2 separate regions of the Homo sapiens genome follow, and region 1 is linked to region 2. Evidence: fine-mapped QTL for protein levels in blood plasma. A gene starts in region 2. The other region holds a variant in brackets. All regions are shown on one strand. Distances are between the middles of the regions.

Region 1 (8,000 bases), 24 kb after region 2:
AATGAAAAAGCAAGGAGGAAGTGAGATATCCTTTCTGGTAGATGCTGAGTGTTTCTGAATTTTGTTAACTGACTGAATCTGTCTCCAATATGCTATTGAAAGTGCTTTCTCATGGTCACCAGTGACCCATTACCAAATCCAGTGAATTTTACCAATTCTTCCTGCATTCTAACGTCTCTGTAGCATCTGACACTTCCTTGATTGGTTTTGATTTTTAGACAGAGTCTGCTGTGTCGCCCAGGCTGCAGTGCAATGGCGCAATTGCAGCTCACTGCAGCCTCCACCTTCCGGGTGCAAGTGATTCTCCTGCCTCAGCCTCCCGAGTAGTTGGGATTACTGGCACCCACCACCACACCTGGCTAATTTTTGTATCTTTAGTGGAGACGGACTTTCACCATGTTGGCCAGGCTGGTCTTGAACTCCTGACCTCAAGTGATCTGCCTACCTCAACCTCCCAAAATGCTAGGATTACAGATTTGAGCTACCTCGCCTGGCCTACTTCCTTGATTGTTTATATGATGTTCTCTTAATCCTCATTTGCTGTAACACAGCACACAATCACAGTTCTGTACCTGTCTGACAGTGCCTTTCACTCCTTTAAGACTGTGTCCTCATGTCCCTTCAAACTGACATTCAGCCCCTTGAGAGGGACTTTTGATCTGAAGTTTGATCAAAAGTTTGGACTAGCTTAGAAGTGAGCTCTGAGACCCAGCACAGTGGCTCACACCTGTAATCCCAGCACTTTGGGAGGCCGAGGTGGGCAGATCACGAGGCCAGGAGATCGAGACCATCCTGGCTAACACAGTGAAACCCTGTCTCTACTAAAAATACAAAAAATTAGCCAGGCGTGGTGGCACACACCTGTAGTCCTAGCTATGCAGGAGGCTGAGGCAGGAGAATTGTCGCTTGAACCCAGGAGGCGGAGGTTGCAGTGAGCCAAGATCACGCCACTGCACTCCAGCCTGGGCGACAGAGCGAGACTCCATCTCAAAAAAAAAAAAAAAAAAAAAAAAAGAAAGAAAACAGTGAGCTCTGGAGGCAAAAAAAATGGATGAAATAACTAGTCCAGTTTTCTTTGATTTGACCAAGTAGACCTAAATTTTCTGCTGCTAAAATTAAGTAAATAGTGACCTTTCCCCAAAGATTTCCACAGGAAAAATTTTGTCACTAGATAGAATTTTCTGAATTTTCCTTTTTTTCTCATTTTTTTTTTTTTTGAGATGGAGTTTCATTCTGTTGCCCAGGGTGGAGTACAGTGGTGCGATCTCGGCTCACTGCAACCTCTGCCTCCTGGGTTCAAGTGATTCTCCTGCCTCAGCCTCCTGAGTAGCTGAGATTACAGGTGCGTGCCACCATGCCTGGCTAATTTTTGTATTTTTAGTAGGGACAGGGTTTCACCACATTGGTCAGGCTGGTCTAGAGCTCCTGACCTCGTGATCCTCCTGCCTTGGCATCCCAAACTGCTAGGATTACAGGCGTGAGCCACTGCGCCCAGCCTTTCCCATAATTTTTTATTTTTATTTATTTATTTATTTTTGAGATGGAGTTTTGCTCTCGGCTCACTGCCACCTCTGCCTCCTGGGTTCAAGCGATTCTCCTGCCTAAGCCTGCCAAGCAGCTGGGATTACAGGTGCCTGCCGCCACACCCTGCTAATTTTTTATATTTAGTAGAGATGGGGTTTCACCATGTTGGTCAGGCTGGTCTCAAACTCCTGACCTCGGGTGATCCACCTGCCTTGGCCTCCCAAAGTGCTGGGATTACAGGCGTGAGCCACCGTGCCTGGCCCCATACTTTTTTATACTTTTGTTTTTTGTTTTGTTTTGAGACGGAGTCTGGCTCTGTCGCCCAGCCTGGAGTACGGTGGCGTGATCTCAGCTCACTGCAAGTTCTGCCTCCTGGGTTCATGCCCATTCTCCTGCCTCAGCCTCCTGAGTAGCTGGGACTACAGGTGCCCGCCACCACACCCAGCTAATTTTTTTGTATTTTTAGTAGAGATGGGCTTTCACCGTGTTAGCCAGGATGGCCTTGATCTCCTGACCTCGTGATCCGCCCGCCTCGGCCTCCCTAAGTGCTGGGATTACAGGCGTGAGCCACTGCGCCTGGCCAGTTTTTTACACTTTTGGTATCATCAATAGTCTATCAAGTAATGAATACAGCAATTAACAAATGAACAAATTCACAACAAGTATTTTATGGTGTACTGAATAATGCAGCTTGGCTTTCAAGTACAACATCCCCTGAACTGGTCTGTTCTGATCTGTAGGCTGGCTCCCTAGAGTTCCCTTGAAGTGGGCTGCACCTCTCAGTCCATCCCTACAGTCCACAGTCCTGAAGTCAGGTTCCAGAACGTCAGATGTCTGGCCTTAAATTCCCAACCAACTCTTCAAAATGAGTTTACACATAGGAAGGAGACCAAAATGGGAAGAGGGCCTAAACACCATAAGGAACAATTGAGGAAACCTGTGAGAAAGGCTTGGTCAAGGGCACATGCAAGTTGTCTTCAAGCATGTGTGGAAGAGAAATTAGATCTACTCTATGAGTACAGAAGGCCAACCCAAGACTAATAGGAAAAAGTTTGTTTGTTTGTTTTGAGATGGAGTCTTGCTCTGTCACCGAGGCTGGAGTACAGTGGCGTGATCCGATCTCAGCTCACTGCAGTCTTCGCCTCCCAGGTTCAAGCGATCCTTCTACCTCAGCCTCCTGCGTAGCTGGGACTACAGGTGTGCGCCACCACACCCAGCTAACATTTGTATTTTTACTAAAGACAGGGTTTCACCATTTTGACCAGGCTGGTCTCGAACTCCTGTCCTCAAGTGATCCGCCAGCCTTGGCCTCCCGAAGTGCTGGGATTATAAGTGTGAACTGCCACGCCCAGCCAGAAAAAGTTTTAACAGAGCTAGTTTAAAATCAAGTGATACTGTCTCAGGCAAGACATTAGTTTCCAGTTTCTGGAAGTATTGGGAAGCAGAGGCTAAATGAACATTTGTCAGAGTTATAACAAAAGCAGTTCATCTACCAGATTGAGATTTGAACTTCCAAGTCTAAATAATACCTTCCTCTCCTTTTTTAGAGGGAGGAGGAGCCCTTGTCTGAACTTGGGGTTCCTAGCCTAAAAAAATGAGATTTCAGACACAGGAGCAAAGATGGAAGCAGGGATAGATAGAGCTATAGATGAAGACATTCGGGGTGGAACAGGAGAAGCAATGATGAGGCTCCTTGGAGTAGTATAAAAGGTGACTGATGGAAGGGAAGGGTAAAGTGAGACAAGTCAGAGAAGGATATTGGGGAGGAGAGGAATGTCTGTGTGAGGGTTCAGAGAAAGAAGAAGGCCTGGTGTCTGCAGAAAATGGTAGCACTTTACCCAGAGAGGAGGGTGCAAGCCAGAGAATTGCATAGATAGTGTTACATGGAGAACACTTACCTTTCAACAGTGGAACTTGGGTATAGGCTCTTGTTCACTGAAAGGAAGACGCCAGTGTAATGGGAGCTTTAGCAAGCACCCATCTTAAAAACTAACACAAAAGAGACCACCTACAACAGGTTGGTAAAGAAAGTAAAGGCTGACTTATAACAATTGTGAATATTTAGAGAAATTCCAGGTGTGATTTCTGCTCTTAACCTACTTTTTGACTTTGACCTCTGGAGCATCTTTTGAAATATTAATCTCTTTAGTCACCAAATGTACTTTTCTCTTTCAGGCAGAAGGCCACAAGCTGTACAAGGACCTGAAGAACTTCCTTAGTGCAGTCAAAGGTGGGCAATGCAGCATGGGAGAATCCAGAGGGCATTTATACAGCTACTAGGAGGTTTGGGGTGGAAAACAATAGCCATACCCCCAGGTTTTTGTCATTTTATCATTTGACTACTCTTGACTCCTGGAATTTTGTGGGCTGAGGAAGAGTGACTTTTCCTTTCAGCCCCATCCAGCTTTCCTCACTTATATAACCTAAACCTTCTGAGTTTGTCCTTCTGAATTGGAACCACTGATTTGTCACCCATGTGATTACACCAACTACTGTTGGGGAAACATGATGGTGGGACTGAATTCTCTCCTTTCAGTGATGCATGAAAGTTCAAAAAGAGTGTCAGAAACCCTGCAGGAGATCTACAGCAGCGAGTGGGACGGTCATGAGGAGCTGAAGGCCATCGTATGGGTAAGAGTGGCTTGAGTTTTACAACTTATTGGCACTTACTCCTGTTTGCATCTCAACCTCAGCTTAGCTTCTCTATCCAAGAAAATAGGAAAACAAAGGAGCCAGTTCACACTGTGCATTTGTGTAGCCTCAGTCACTGGGTGGTAGGAAGAAGCTACAACTGTTAAGGTAAAAACAAGTTTTCCCTAATCTGTGGATCCCTCTAATTTTGACCCTCTTCTCCTCTTTAAAACATTATGGGAAGTTTTACCTCCTAAAGATTGGTTGTTTTTTAAAACAAACTTCATGCAGTTATACACTCTTAAACTTTCCCATCTAAGCTCTGGAGTCCAAGGCTTTGACCTTGTGCCCTGTTCTTAATCTCTGAATGTATGTTCAGACTCCCATAGAGCAGTTCCTTGGGGTAGGGGCTGTCTCTTTTCTTCCTCTGACTAGTCCCCAGAATCCAACATGGTATTCTAAATACGGTGCTACAAAAAAGGTTTTTGCAGGGAGAATTTGGGTATTTCCCTGGTAGGCAGTTGTTGTTGGGAAGTGGAGCCTTCACCAGCCTCTGACTCTATCCTACAGAATAATGATCTCCTTTGGGAAGACTACGAGGAGAAACTGGCTGACCAGGCTGTAAGGACCATGGAAATCTATGTTGCCCAGTTCAGTGAAATTAAGGTACTCAATGT[AC/C]AGAATCAAGGCTGGGTTGTGGATGACCCATCCAGGTTAGAGAACATATTGGGTTAAGCATTATAAGTAGAATTAGAACTCACGATTAAGAATGAAGTTTGGGTAAGTTAGGAGAAAGATTAAGGTTGAGGGTTAGACAAGAGGTTAGGATAGAAGGTTGGAAGTAGTGTGAAGTTTATGTTTAAACTTAGATTTCAAGGCTGGGTGCAGTGGCTCACACCTGTAATCCCAGTACTTTGGGAGGCCGATGCAAGAGAATCACTTGAGCCCAGGAGTTCGGGACCAGCCTGGGCAACATGGCAAAATCCCATCTCTACAAAAAATACAAAAAAAAATAGTCATGTGGTGGTGCGTGTCTGTAGTCCCAGCCACCCTAGGAGACTGAGGTGAAGGATCACTTCAGCTGGGGAGGGAGAGGTTGCAGTGAGCCAAGATCATGCCACTGTGCGCCAGCCTGGGTGACAGAGGCTGGTGTCTCAAAAAAAGTAAATAAATAAAATAAACTTAGATTTCAGTAAGCTATATTTGGGCTGATTTCGAATTAGATCCAAGTTAGAGGCATCCCTTTTAGCTGTGAGAAACAGCTGATGGCACTAAAGATGTTTATTGTATAGAAGAGGAAACATGGAGCAATCAAATAGTTATCTTCAAATATTTGAAAGTCTGTTAGGTAAAATAGGAATTCAACCTATTCTAAACTGTTCTGCTTTCTGTTCCAGAAAGCAGAATTAGAATTCATCTATTCATTCAGCTAGTTTTTTTTTGTTTTTGTTTTTGTTTTCTTTTTTTTGAGATGGAGTCTTGCTCTGTTGCCCAGGGTGGAGTGCAATGGCGCAGTCTTGGCTCACTGCAACCCCCGCCTCCCGGGTTCTAGGGATTCTCCCGCCTCAGCCTCCCGAGTAGCTGGGATTACAGGCATGCGTCACCAAGCCCAGCTAATTTTTGTATTTTTAGTGGAGACAGGGTTTCTCTGTGTTGTCCAGGCTGGTCTCAAACTCCTGACATCAGGTGATCCGCCCACGGCCTCCCAAAGTGCTGGGATTGCAGGCGTGAGCCACTGCACCCGGCTCTAGTATTTATTAAACACCTACTCTGTCAAGCACCGTGCTGATTCAGAGGAAGAAGTTAGAAGGAGGCTGACTTAAGTTCCTAATAGTTAAAGCTTTCCAAAAATGAAATGAAATAGACTCAAAGATAGTGAGTTGTCTGTTCTTTGTGCAAACAGAAGTCAAACTACTTCTTATCTTGGATGTTATAGAGAAGCCTCATGGTATTGTATGGGAAATTGGACCAGATAATTGCTAAGATCTTTTCAAATTCTGTGACTGAGAGAATGAAACGGTTCAAAGACATAGTTTGCTTCTCACTGGTATAATTTATAGTTTGGATAAGGCTGAGTAGACTTTCTCTCAGTGGTCATAGTAATTTATAGCTTTTATTGTGTTTTAGAGCTTTCAAAGCACTTTGTATTCAGCATTCACTCTTTCAAATAACAGTTGTATAAGGGGAGATGGGGCTACTGAGGCTCCAAAAGAGATGTGCCTTGCCACTGGCCACAGGCTATGAATGGCAGATTTGGGACTAATTCCCAAAAATCCAGACTTTCACTTTCATGTGATTCTCAAGGCCATTTCTCCTGGAGGCTGAACCAGTTTATAATGGGTTCATAGGAAATATTAAAATTTAATACAGCGGGAGGTGGAGGTGGAAATATATATATGTATTTAATTATATATCTATTACATATATATAATTAATACAGATTTCCACATGCTCTGTAGGACTCTATCTCCCTCTGAGACTCCCCCATTCTTCCCAGATACTGAGGGAGACCCCATGGGCGCAAAACCCTATTAGAAAGTGAAATTTGGGCCAGGTGCGGTTGCTCCTGCCTGTAATCCCAGCACTTTGGGAGGCCGAGGTGGGCATATCACATGAGCCCAGGAGTTCGAGACCAGCCTGGCTAAGATGGCAAAACCCCATCTCTACTAAAAATGCAAAAATTAGCCGGGCTTGGTGCACATGCCTATAATTCCAGCTACCTGGGAGGCCGAAGCACAAAAATTGCTTGAATCTGGGAGGCAGAGGTTACAGTGAGCTGAGATCGCACAACTGCACTCCAGCCTGGGCAACAGAGCAAGACCCTGTCTCAAAAAAAACAAAAGCAAAAAACAACGAAAGTGAAATTTGATAGTAGGATGCAAGAATCTTGCTCTCTGTTTGGTATTCTGTTACCTACATCCTGGCCACTAAAAAGTGAGTATCCACACCCTTTCTCATTACCCTGGGTCAGGAGAGAATTGCCAAGCGGGGTCGGAAACTCGTGGACTATGACAGTGCCCGACACCACCTGGAGGCAGTGCAGAATGCCAAGAAGAAAGATGAGGCCAAGACTGCCAAGGTAAAACAAAAACAACAACAAAAACTGGTAAACCCTTCCTGTTCTCCTTCTCCCCATGGTGGTAGCAGGTGGCTGGGCCAACATGGGTATAGGAAATTATAAATTCAGCATCCAGTGTCCTAAAGGAAATCTGTTTCTTCTGACACTGATGCTGTAAGGATAGTCAGAGTCTTGAGGCTGGGGAGGGCATGGTCAGGGGAAGAAGAGGGATGGCTCCTAAAAAGCCTAGTGCCTAAAAAAATGCAGAGGATGAAGGAGGCATGCTGTAGTACTGGGTTCAGAATTGAGGGAGATTGTCTTGTCTCTTTTACCACCTAGGCAGAGGAAGAGTTCAACAAAGCCCAGACTGTGTTTGAAGATCTGAACCAAGAACTACTAGAGGAGCTGCCTATTCTTTATAATAGGTAATGACTGAAATTCAGAAAAGGTGCCTTTGCTTCACACAAGGCACCTTGTGTGCCTTGACAGTAAGTAGATAAAAGTGTTTTAGATTTAAATTCCCACACTGCCCCGCCCCCTTTTTTTTTTTTTCGAGACAGGGTCTCACTCTGTCACCCAGGCTAGAGTGCAGTAGCACTCAATCTCAGCTCACTGCAACCTCCACCTCCCTAGTTCAAGTGATTGTTGTGCTTCAGCCACCCGAGTACCTGGGATTACAGGCATGTGCCACCATGCCTGGCTAATTTTTTTTTGTATTTTTAGTAGAGATGGGGTTTCACCATGTTGCCCAGGCTGGTCTCGAACTCCTGGCTTCAAGTGATCCCCC
Region 2 (11,665 bases):
AGCTACTCTAGTTCTCCCACCCCATGGGAGGCCACTTTCAACTCTTCAGCTGATTCTTTTGGTGTCTACATCTTTAAAATTATATACTTACACTGCTATTTTTGTGTTGACATTATGGCAGATGTGATTCTCTTTATTTTTTATATATACATACCTGCCCTCCAAGCATGACATTTTCTGATCACCATCTCAACCTCTCAAAATATTTTGGTTAGATCAACATTCGGCATTTACTATGATTATATAAAATGCTATTTACAACAAAATCATGTAATATATTCTAGGTTTACTTTTCATTTGCTGCATAACTTTTTTTTTTTTTTTTTAAAGAGACAGGATCTTACTCTGTCACCCAGGCTGGAGTGCAGTAGCACAATCACAGCTCACTGCAGCCTTGAATTTCTGGGCTCAAGAAATCCTCCCACCTCAATCTCCTGAGTAGCCAGGACTACAGGCACATGCCACCACACTCAGCTGATTTTTTAAAATTTTAATAGAGATGGGGGTCTCGGTTTGTACCCCAGGCTGGTCTCAAACTCCTGGCTTTAGCTTAAGCAGTCCTCCTGCCTCAGCCTCCCAAAGTGCTGGGATTACAGTCATAAACCACCAAGGTCAGCCCTTGCTGCACAACTTTTTCAATTTTTTCAATGTCTGTTAAAAATTGTCTTTTTCATTTGCTTAATATAGTCAGTTTTTCATTAATTCAACCCCACACACTCCACTAATTTGTTAAGTGACCTATATCATCTTCTCTTGACCTAGTGGTCTATGTGGATCTATTTGCATTCGTTGTGAGGGATACTTAATGGGTGGGTTTTCCCGGAAACTCCAGACCTTTGATCCAGAAAATGTTGTTTATTTGTTGATTTCCTCCCACTCTATTTTCACTTTTCTCTTTCTAGAATTTCTGTTATTCACATGTTTGCCTCCTAAGCTGGTCCTCTTGTTTTCTCTATATCTTGTTTGTTCTATCTTATGTTCCAACTCTTCCAGTCTCTCATTTCTAAATCTATCAAATCTGTAATTTCCAAAGGCTCTTTTTGCTGTCTGAATGTTGTTTAGTAGTATGCCGTTCTTGTATCATGGATGCATATTAGTCATGTTTTTTGTTTGTGTGTTTGTTTTGAGACGGAGTCTCGCTCTGTCGCCCAGGCTGAAGTGCAGTGGTGCAATCTCAGCTCACTACAACCTCCAGCTCCTGGGTTCAAGCGATTCTCCTGCCTCAGCCTCCTGAGTAACTGGGATTACAGGCATGTACCACCACGCCCGGCTAATTTTTGTATTTTTAATAGAGTTTTAGGGGTTTCACTGTGTTGGCCTAGTCTTGAACTCCTGACCTCAGGTGATCCGCCCGCCTCAGCCTCCCAAAGTGCTGGGATTACAGGTGTGGAGCCACCATGCCCAGCCTATTAGTTATGGTTTTATTGCTTGTTTTCTTCTCCCTGCATAGTCTTGGTTGCCTTCATTTTTTTATTTAGCTCCTTGTTTCTTTGTTTCAATCTTTATTTTTATATTAGATGAATTCCTTTTTTTTTTTTTTTTTTGAGACAGAGTCTCACTCTGTCGCCCAGGCTGGAGCCCAGTGGCGCCATCTTGGCTCACTGCAAGCTCTGCCTCCCGGGTTCACGCCATTCTCCTGCCTCAGCCTCCCGAGTAGCTGGGACTACAGGCGCCCACCACCACGCCCGGCTAATTTTTTGTATTTTTAGTAGAGATGGGGTTTCACCGTGTTAGCCAGGATGGTCTCGATCTCCTGACCTCGTGATCCGCCCGCCTCAGCCTCCCAAAGTGCTGGGATTACAGGCATGAGTCACTGGGCCCGGCTAGAGGCATTCTTTAGATGTTTAGTGATCCTTAACCATCTGCTTTTATTTCAGAGTGGGGGTGGTATTTTTACCCAGAGTGGGTGGGCTGATTGGTAGCTCTGAGCCTTAGATGGGGTTCATCAATAGTGGATTCTCTGTCAGGTGATCTGGCTAGGCCATTTTAGTGGAGGACCTCCAATGTCAGTATCTTTAGGTCTTTCCTCTTGGACTGTTCAGTTTTTCCAGAGAAGTATCTTCCCATTTTATGTGTGGCATTATGGACCTGGCATTCTAGAAGCTGAGTAAGAAGGGAGGCAAGATCATATTCCATAAACCCAGGTTCCCAGTTGAGCATGTGACCTAATACATCACTTTCCTCTTCATTCCAGTTTAGTTTAGCATGTTTTGACTACCAAGTCTAAATACTTGGTCTAATTATACCCATTGGTCTAAATGCTGGGGATAAAGAAATTATTAGAATGCCCTATTTTTGCCACCCCAGGTTCAATTTAAGCCAATAAAAGCGATTGAACTTTAGATATTTAAAGTTCTATGCTAGCATTGTGGAGAGGAAAGATCTTGGTAAGAGTTTTTGTCTCAGGAAGCTCATAGACATGTGTGAGGAGGTACAAACAAATTATGAAACCAAAATACAAGGCAGAACATGAAATAAGTGCAGCAAAAGAGAAGAAGTATTGTGGTTGTTTAGAAAGGAAGAAGAGATTCATTTTGATTGTGGGGACATGAAGGAGGTGGAGATTTGCATTGGAGCTTTAAAACCGTACAGAATTTCACAACCAGAGACGGGGGCGGGGGGAGTGCAAGCAAAAGCCCGAAGATCTGGAGTTTTAGGATTCTGTTTCTCCTCCCTGCAGGGTGACTCTGGGGGCCCCCTCCATTGCTTGGTGAATGGCAAGTATTCTGTCCATGGAGTGACCAGCTTTGTGTCCAGCCGGGGCTGTAATGTCTCCAGGAAGCCTACAGTCTTCACCCAGGTCTCTGCTTACATCTCCTGGATAAATAATGTGAGTCCTCTCAAATGATGGGTTGAAATGGGGTCACCTGGAGACCTACGCACTGGCTGGGTTGGGGAACAAACGTTGGATGGACTGGGCAAGCCGTCATCTTCCTTACCACATTCATGTGTTTACTCCCTTCCCTTCCTTCCACGGTGTACTTTCCTTCAATAAGGCTGCCATCCTGAATTCCCTCCCCTCCACATACCCACAGAGCAGACTTCACTGTATTGTTTATTGCTTAGGGTAAGACAGTGGCAACATCAAATCTGAATCAGGGACATATCAGTGCCTTCCTAAGTCAAAGCCCAGGGAAAAACAGGTTCAGAAAGGCCTGCGTACTCCTAGGCAAGGGAAGGAGGCACCGACTTCCTCTCCCACAACGTCTTTCTAAGGACATTATGATAATTTGCTCTAACTTTTTTTTTTTTTTTTTTTTGAGACAGAGTCTCACTGTGTCACCCAGGCTGGAGTGCAGTGGCTTGATCTCGACTCACTGCAGCCTCTGCCTCCTGGGTTCAAGTGATTCTCCTGCTTCAGCCTCCCAAGTAGTTGGGATTATAGGCATGCACCACCAAACCTGGTAAATTTTTTTTGTATTTTTAGTAGAGATCGGGTTTCACCATGTTGGTCAGGCTGGTCTTGAACTCCTGACCTCAAGTGATCCACCTGCCACCCAAAGTGCTGGGATTACAGGCATGAGCCACAGCGCCCGGCCTGCTCTAATTTTTGACAGGTTTTACCACCTTAAATAATGCTTGAGAGTTAGGTGAGGCTCTGCCTACACTGACCTGGTGGAAAGGCCACACAACACATTTCACTGTGCCCTCCACCCTTCAAACACATTCTGGAGCCTTGTGTATTAATCTTGGCTCACGGCCATTTCAAGGTCTGTCTTTGCCACTGTATTCTGGGTATGTACCTATAACACTGAGCTGTCCTATCACAGTTGAGGCTGACTTCCTGCCTCCCTGTCCCCACACCCTGTCAACTTCCCATAAACCCAGTACAAAACCATACTTAACTGGGAGCCCTGAGGAAACAAGAAAGGAGGTAGGCAGGAGTTACTGACTGTGGACATAACTGTCTTTCCTTCAGGTCATCGCCTCCAACTGAACATTTTCCTGAGTCCAACGACCTTCCCAAAATGGTTCTTAGATCTGCAGTAGGACTTGCGATCAAAAAGTAAAACACATTCTGAAAGACTATTGAGCCATTGATAGAAAAGCAAATAAAACTAGATATACATTATCATACTGTGTCTATTTGTAATTAAGCCCTCCAGAGCAGGGGTCCCTATGCCTGATGATCTGTCACTGTCTCCCATCACCCCCAGACAGGACCGTCTAGTTGCAGGAAAACAAGCTCAGGGATCCCACTGATTCTACATTATGGTGAGTTGTATAATTAGTTCACTATATATTACAGTGTAATAATAATAGAAATGTAGTACACAATAAATGTAATGCCCTTGAATCATCTCGAAACCATCCCCCACCCCGGTTCGTGGAAAATTGTCTTCCACGAAACGGGTCCCTGGTGCCAAAAAGGTTGGGGACCACTGATTTAGAAGAAATGCAGTTATAGGATCCAAGTTGGATTTCACCACATCTGCAGGCTGGGTCTTCCCTTTGCTGCTACCTCTACCAGTCCACAACACAAACCCAGTGGGAGTAGCTTTATGTTATCCATTTTGGGTTACTTTAGGATCTATGTATCCACTAATCTGTCCATCTGCCCTATTCCTGTGGATATTTGCTATATTCGAAGGCACAGAGCTACTTGGGAGGCTGAGGCAGGAGAATCGCTTGAACCCGGGAGGTGGAGGTTGCAATGAGCCAAGATTGCACCGTTGCACTCCATCCTGGGCAACAAGAGCGAAAGACCATCTCAAAAAAAAAAAAAAAAAAAAAAGGTTCCCGAGTGGGCTGGGTACGGTGGCTCACGCCTGTAATCCCAGCACTTTGGGAGGCCGAGGTGGGTGGATAACGAGGTCAGGAATTCGAGACTAGCCTGGCCAAGATGGTGAATCCTCGTGTCTACTAAAAATACAAAAATTAGCTGGGCACAGTGGCAGGCGCCTGGAATCCCAGCTACTCAAGAGGCTGAGGCAGGAAAACTACTTGAACCCAGGAGGTGGAGGTTGCAGTGAGCTGAGATCGTGCCACTGCACTCTAGCCTGGGCAACAAAGCAAGACTCCGTCTCAAAACAAACAAACAAAAAACTTCCTGAGTGACTGAATGTGCCCTGTCTTTCCCAGGTATACTGTGGGTTCATCCTTCTTTTGTTTCCCCCTTTAGTGCCTAAAACGAACGCCCACTCCAAGTTTCTGGGTGATGGCAACTACTAGGATACACCAGAGATAGAAGTATAAGATTAGGAGGCAGGGCAGATACCAGCAGACTAAGAAAGTGACAAATTAGAAAGGAGACTGGAGAAAATCGCTTGGGCCTGGGAGGTGGAGGCCGCAGTGAGCCAAGATTGCGCCACTGCATTCCAGCCTGGGCAATGAAGTGAGATTCTGTCTCAAAAAAAAAAAAAAACAACAATGGAGACTGGAGAGCTAAGAATAGAAAAAAGGAGAGAAGAGAAGATACTAAACAAAGAAACGAAAGGGTTGAGGGGAAGAGGCAGAACAGAAAGGAAGAGGCAACAACAACATAGGGCCTCAAGCTAAGTGTGAATCAGCACTTTAAGGCTGGGACTAAAATTAGGCAACCGGATCCAGGGTTCTATAAACCACAGAGAACTGGGAAACTGATAATTCTGCTGTATCCTGGCCAGGGCTCAGTCTGTTAGAGTGGCCTATGAGAAAGCAAAGGGGGAACTGAAAGGGGAAGGCTAAAAAGGATGAGAAGCAGCTTTTCATGTCAATCACTTAAGACCAGACAAGAGGGACTAGGGTATTAAACATTACAGAAGGAGAAACTGGCTGAGACAGACCCTGGAATTGACAGGCTCAGCAGAGGCCTCTAGAACACTCCATGTGCTATAAGAGGCTGAGTCTGTTCCCATCCCAGTTCCACCACTGAGGAGCTGGGTGGCTGTGGTCAAGTCATCAGCCCTTTCTGTGACTCAATTTCCCTATCTAATTAACTTCTAAGGGTTGTTTCTTCTCTAACACTACATGATTTGGTGACCATCAATTTCAGTTTGCAAGATATTGGCACTAAACAGAGTTTCTTAGGAGACAGTGGCTGGGTTGCATTGCTGAGGATGCCATGTAGTCCTGGCAGGGACACAGGTACTGGCCTCCTTCTGCCAGTGACACACCTGTTAGCATTGCCATCTACTCTCAGTGTTCCCGCAGTACTGCTATTCTCCATGCTTCTCCCCACTTCTCCCCATCCAATATCAAGTCCTTCTATTTTCATCACCCTGCCTCTTCCAGGGCATCACCAAAGCTAACATCCAGAATAAACCCTAATCGCCTGGCAGGGCAAGGTGGTTCACACCTGTAATCCCAGCCCTTTGGGAGGCTGAGGCGGGTGGATTGCTTGAGCTCAAGAGTTCCAGATCAGCCTGGGTAGCCAGGAGTGGTGGCATGCACGCACCTTAGTCCCAGCTACTCAGGAGGCTGAGGTGAGACCATCACTTGGGCCTGGGAGGTAGAGGCTGCAGTGAGCCCTGATGGCACTGCTGCACTCCAGCCTGGCAACAAAGCAAGACCCTGTCTCCAAACAAACAAACAAACAAACAAACCCTAATCACCTATTCCCAGAAAATTTTGTATCCATCTCTACAAATAAATTAAGCACATTACATTAGAATCACCTGATTACCCACCTATCTCCACTTCCAGACTTTAAGCATCTTTATTTATGTACTTATTTATTAATACTTATTCTTTATTGGTTGAGAAAGGGCCTCACGCTTTGCCCAGGCTGGAATGCAGTGGCACCATCAGGGCTCACTGCAGCCTCCACCTCCCTTGGCTCGGGTGATCCTCCCACCTCAGCCTCCCTGATAGCTGGGACTACAGGTGTGTGCCACCACGCCCAATTAATTTTTGTATTTTTAGCAGAGAGAAGGTCTTGCTATGTTGCGCAGGCTAGTCTCAAACTCCTGGGCTCAAGCAATCTGCCTGCCTCAGCCTCCTAAAGTGTTGGGATTACAGGTGTGAGCCGTGGTGCCCGGCCAGACTTCATTAAGCATCTTAAGGTCAGGGACTGCATTTTATTCATCCTTGTTTCAGAACACCCAGCAATGCCTGGTACACAGTTGACCTTGAGTGCAGTAATGATTGTTTTGGAGAAAGAAGAGGAACACAGTAGCATACAAGGGCCTCTAATTTTGTGTCAGGCCCTATCTTCCCCCTCCACTCCTTAGGAAGTGTTATTTTGACCTTCTTCCCTGCCTTGAGGAAATTTTAACCTGCACTGTAAAATCTGAGTACGTGGTTCCTCCACACCTAGTGTCCTAATCTCAAGCTATCCCCTCAAACAGGTCAGGGAGGAATTTTTTGGAGAACTTCTCCCTAAAGAAACAATAGTTGTCATCTCAACAGCCGCACCCCAATTTGCACAATCTGTGTCTGTGTTCACATTCTGCCTCCATCCAGTACACTGTACTCCAACTAGAAAAACTTGCTCCTCATGCTCAGCACGGGCGTCCATACTATCCTCCTCAGCCTTTTTTCAATGTGATCATTCTCTTGCCTAAGAACCAGCCCCCTACCCTGTTTCTATCTCCAGCTTAGTTGTTCCTCATTTATTTATTTATTTATTTATTTATTTATTTATTTATTTGAGACGAACTGTCGCTCTGTCGCCCAGGCTGGAATGCAGTGGCGCGATTTCGGCTCACTGCAACCTCTGCCTCCCGGGTTCAAACAATTCTCCTGCGTCATCCTCTCGAGTAGCTGGGACTGCAGGCGTGCGCCACCACACCCAGCTAATTTTTGTATTTTTAGTAGCGACGCGGTTTCACCGTATTGGTCAGGCTGATCTCCTAACCTCAGGCGATCCACCCGCCTCGGCCTCCCAAAGTGCTAGGATTACAGGCGTGAGCCACCGCGCCCGGCCTGTTTCTCTCTTTCAAGCCCGGCTCGGGTGTCCTGCCTGCTTTCTGCACTCTATCCCTACCAGTTCCAGGCTTAGAGCCTACCTGGAGCAAGAAACGCAGTGTACATGGCGGCTTCGCATGCATACTCAGAGAACCTAAACGTGTTTTCGATATGGTAGGTCCTCTCGCTGAGTGGAACCCACATCATTTTCTACCCTGCGGTGGCAGTTGCTTTGCAGTGCTCAGCGTGATGGGAACTGGCTTTCCGGAGCGAGTGAGTGTGGGCCCACCACTGAGGACCTGGTTCAGTGAGGCCGAGGTTTCGGGCAGGGGTTGGAGCTCGGAAGCTGGCCTCGAGCGAGCGCTGCCTGAGGGTAGGCCCCGGGCCCGCCCCTCCGAGCCGGCCTGCTCCAGCTGACAGTGGTGGGCTGAGGGGCGGGCCTCAGGGCTGGCCAGGGGCGGCCTGAGGTGGCTCAGGGCTGGGGCCGGATGCGAGGCATGCCGGGAGCCCGCACTTCCTCCTCGGGGGCCTCAGAAAACCACAGGGCGCGGGGCCAGGGCGGCGGCCCCCAGGGAGTTGGCAGGATGGCAGAGGGCAAGGCAGGCGGCGCGGCCGGCCTCTTCGCCAAGCAGGTGCAGAAGAAGTTTAGCAGGGCCCAGGAGAAGGTAGGTGGCCGGGCCTCGCTGTCTGTCTGGCCCACAGGGAGCCGAGGCCGAGGCCGAGCCCGGCCGGGCAGGAGGGGCGGGCAGGGTGCTCAGGGGCCCCGAAGGGTCTGGGCTGACGAGAAGGGTCTCCCGCTCTCCCAGGGAAACGGGAGCGAGGAGTGGGCTTCCATGAAAACTGGCAGATTGGAGAGAGGTCGGAGACCGCCACCCGATCTTGGGCAAGGATAAGGGAAGCTGGGGAGACAACAGTCTCTGGGCAGAACCTTCGACAACCCTCAGGCTGACCCAGAAAAGGTGAAAGAAAGGAAGTGATGGTGGTGGCCACCTTTGTATCAAATTTTGTGCTAGCAATCCAAAATTGGTATTTTACAGATGATGAAATTGGAGGGTAATTTTCCATAGAGGGCAATTTCCCCAAAAACAGCGATGCAGCGGATGCCAGCAGGCACCCCCCACCAAAGGCTTAGAATAATCCTGCATAGTTCTCCCCCTACCTGACCCTGCCTGGCCTCTGGGTGGTGTTTCAGCTGACGTAAGCAGGAGCCCAAATCTGCTTCTTCTACCCTCCCTTTGGCGTTGGGGAGTACACCTCCCAGGGTGATGAACCACATCTGTGTTCAGAGTGTGTCCTTGGTTAGTGTCAGGTAGCCCTGCTCCAGCACTGGCACTTAGGTGGGCTGCCCATCTATTACTTGCTTGGCAATCTAAATTGTGGGGACATTCTCTACACATTTTGATGGCATTTTTGTTTCTACCTGTACAGAATATTTTCTTTGCTTCTAACCTGAGCCTCTGCTCTCCACCTACCAACCCTCTAGTAGACAAGGCGGTTTGGGAAGACATGTCAGCCAGAAGAAAGAGCGAGGGAAGAAAGACAAGAAGGACCTGAGATAGAGTTTCGGTTTTCCTTTTTTTCTCTCTCTCTTTATTAAGCCCAACCTGCCTTCTACAACGGAGAAGTTTTGGTTTTCTAAGAGCTGATGGACTTAGAAGCATTTGGATGAACAGCTCTGCTTACCAACTGAAATATCCCTATTATCTTCTAAAAGTGGAGCACTGCTTTGAGCCCTGGGAAGGCTTAAAGGCAACCAGCTCTCCCGAGTTGATTTATCAGCAGAAAACTGATGGAATGTAGATGTAGCTCCTGACTTTAAGAGACCACAATGGAAGGGAGGTTATTTTCTATCATTTGAGGTCATGTGAAAGAGAGGAGGAAAAGGGAAAGAGTTCGTGTAGCCAGACTTCGTTACTTCACTTACCCTAACTTCACCTTGATCCTAGTTTCAGCCTCTCTGAAGACTTACAAATCTGGTAGACCCGAGAGCAGGGCCTATGGGAAGGTCTAGCTCGAAACAGTGTGGGCGAGCAGGAGGTACTGGAGAGAAGGCCACACTGTGGTTGAAAAAAAAAAAAACCCTAAAAGACAAAACACTCATGAATGATAGTAATTTTAAAAAGACATACCAGCCAGGCACAGTGGCTCACTCCTGTAATCCCAGCACTTTGGGAGGCCAAGGTGGGAGGACTGCTTGAGCCCAGGAGATCAAGACTGCAGTGAGCAGTGATCACACCACACCACACTCAAGCAGAGGGAGACTCTGTCTCAAAAAATAAAAATAAATACATAAAAATAAAAGACATACAATTGATTGTATTTCACTCTTGCATCTTCTGTCTTCATCTAGCCTCTCGTCAACACTAAAACCTTGCTTTGGGCTTTCACTCCTTTGTAAGCATAGACTCCAAACCTTGGCTAAATAATGTCCTGCTCTGGGCTTCAGATCTTGCACCTGTAAAATGAGAGGGTTGATGTTCTTGATGAAACTCAATATGGTAAGAACACTAAATTGAAAAGCTGTCACATTAGACTCAGAGTCAAATACTTCCCAAAGACAGAACCAGTCTCTCAGGTTCTTCTGGCCTGAACCCTGAGGAAGTAGAGAAAGAGGAGCAAACTCAAATCTGCCATGAGGAATTCCCAGCTGATGAAGAAAACAAGATATTCTGAACCTAGACTAGACAAAAGGGTAGGCAAAGGTTGAACTTCGATAAGGTGGGAATGGCCTGGGATGCCGGAAGGGAGCTCAGCTCCGTCAGCCTGAAGCCAGTCCTTGAGTCTTGGGAAGTTATTGAGACCAAGATAAAGAGGGAGAAATTTGCACTAAAATGAAAGAATTCCTTGCAACACTTTTTGCTTTTTCTGCAAGCAGTTGGATGTAATCTTCTGAGTAATAAGTAATAGCTAATGTGTCAAATAGTGAAATGTGTCAAATATCAAGCGCCTATTATGGACCAGAGACAGGGATATAAGAAAGTGATTATCAGCGGGGTGCAGTGGCTCACGCCTGTAATCCCAGCACTTTGGGAGGCCCAGGCAGGTGGATCTCCTGAGGTCGGGAGTTCGAGACCAGCCTGACCAACATGGAGAAACCCCGTCTCTACTAAAAATACAAAATCAGCCGGGTGTGGTGGCGCATGCCTGTAATCCCAGCTACTCAGGAGGCTGAGGCAGGAGAATCGCTTGAACCTGGGAGGCGGAGGTTGCCGTGAGCCGAGATCGCGCCATTGCACTCCAACTTGTGCAACAAGAGCAAAACTCTGTCTCAAAAAAAAAAAAGACAAAGTGATTCTCTCTCCCTTTATGGAGCCAACATTCTACCGATGTCATCTCCCTTCATCTATTCAACACTTTAAGCAGGTTATTAGCATCTCTGTTTTAGAAATAAGGAAACAAGGCTCAAAAGAGATTGGTAGGTAGCAGAAATATTACTGAAACCCAGGTGTCCTGCCTCTGAATCCTAACCTCACTCAGGCTGCTGCTTTACAACGTTCCTGATAAGCCACTCTCACATCTGTGCCTCCCCCACTTCCTGCTGATCCTCTCTCAGGAACAGAGCTCAGAAGTAGAAACACTTTTTGTTCAGGCATCCTCTGAAAAGCTGGGAGTGGAGGTCTGGTGACCATTAAACACAATAGGGATGAAACATTCTTGGTCTGTTTTCCATTTCCCGCCCAAACTCAACATGGGACTGAATTTAAGCTGGCTTTAGAGTGTGTGTGTGTGTGTTTGTGTGTGTGTGTGTGTTTTTAGTATGATACATCTTCTCATTTCCAACTATAGTACTGCTTTCACCATCTGTTTGTGATTTCTCTGTGGCAAACCTCTCAGATCC

Which allele goes with the higher level. Alleles are on the strand shown, and positions count from the first base shown. The strength of an association depends on the size of the effect and on how common the allele is.
With allele C in place of AC in region 1, the plasma level of the protein whose gene starts at base 8,340 in region 2 is lower (moderate association).

Evidence for each region. PIP is the posterior inclusion probability: the model's chance that the variant is causal. Protein levels are from antibody-based Olink assays in UK Biobank. Linkage for the fine-mapping came from a reference panel and not from the study's own genotypes, which makes the PIPs less certain.
Region 1: its variant is fine-mapped to the plasma level of the BIN2 protein (UK Biobank, PIP above 0.99).

The regions. Positions count from the first base shown.
Region 1 is chr12:51,298,841-51,306,840 of GRCh38, reverse strand. It overlaps BIN2 (bridging integrator 2), which reads left to right. Exons shown (of 13, transcript NM_016293.4): 3 at 3,700-3,754; 4 at 4,061-4,155; 5 at 4,726-4,821; 6 at 7,127-7,234; 7 at 7,553-7,638. Among named protein-coding and RNA genes, the nearest start is that of BIN2, 21 kb to the left of the region's middle. The variant AC/C (reference allele first, on the strand shown) is at 4,833.
Region 2 is chr12:51,320,849-51,332,513 of GRCh38, reverse strand. It overlaps BIN2 (bridging integrator 2), which reads left to right and starts at 8,340. Exons shown (of 13, transcript NM_016293.4): 1 at 8,340-8,492. The coding sequence starts at 8,412. CELA1 (chymotrypsin like elastase 1) reads left to right here. Exons shown (of 8, transcript NM_001971.6): 7 at 2,681-2,830; 8 at 3,920-4,072. The coding sequence ends at 3,937. LOC105369767 (a long non-coding RNA gene) reads left to right here and starts at 8,506. Exons shown (of 2, transcript XR_944957.3): 1 at 8,506-8,786; 2 at 9,311-10,146. RefSeq lists silencers at 5,115-5,409, 8,105-8,594, 11,575-11,665 and an enhancer at 8,625-8,814.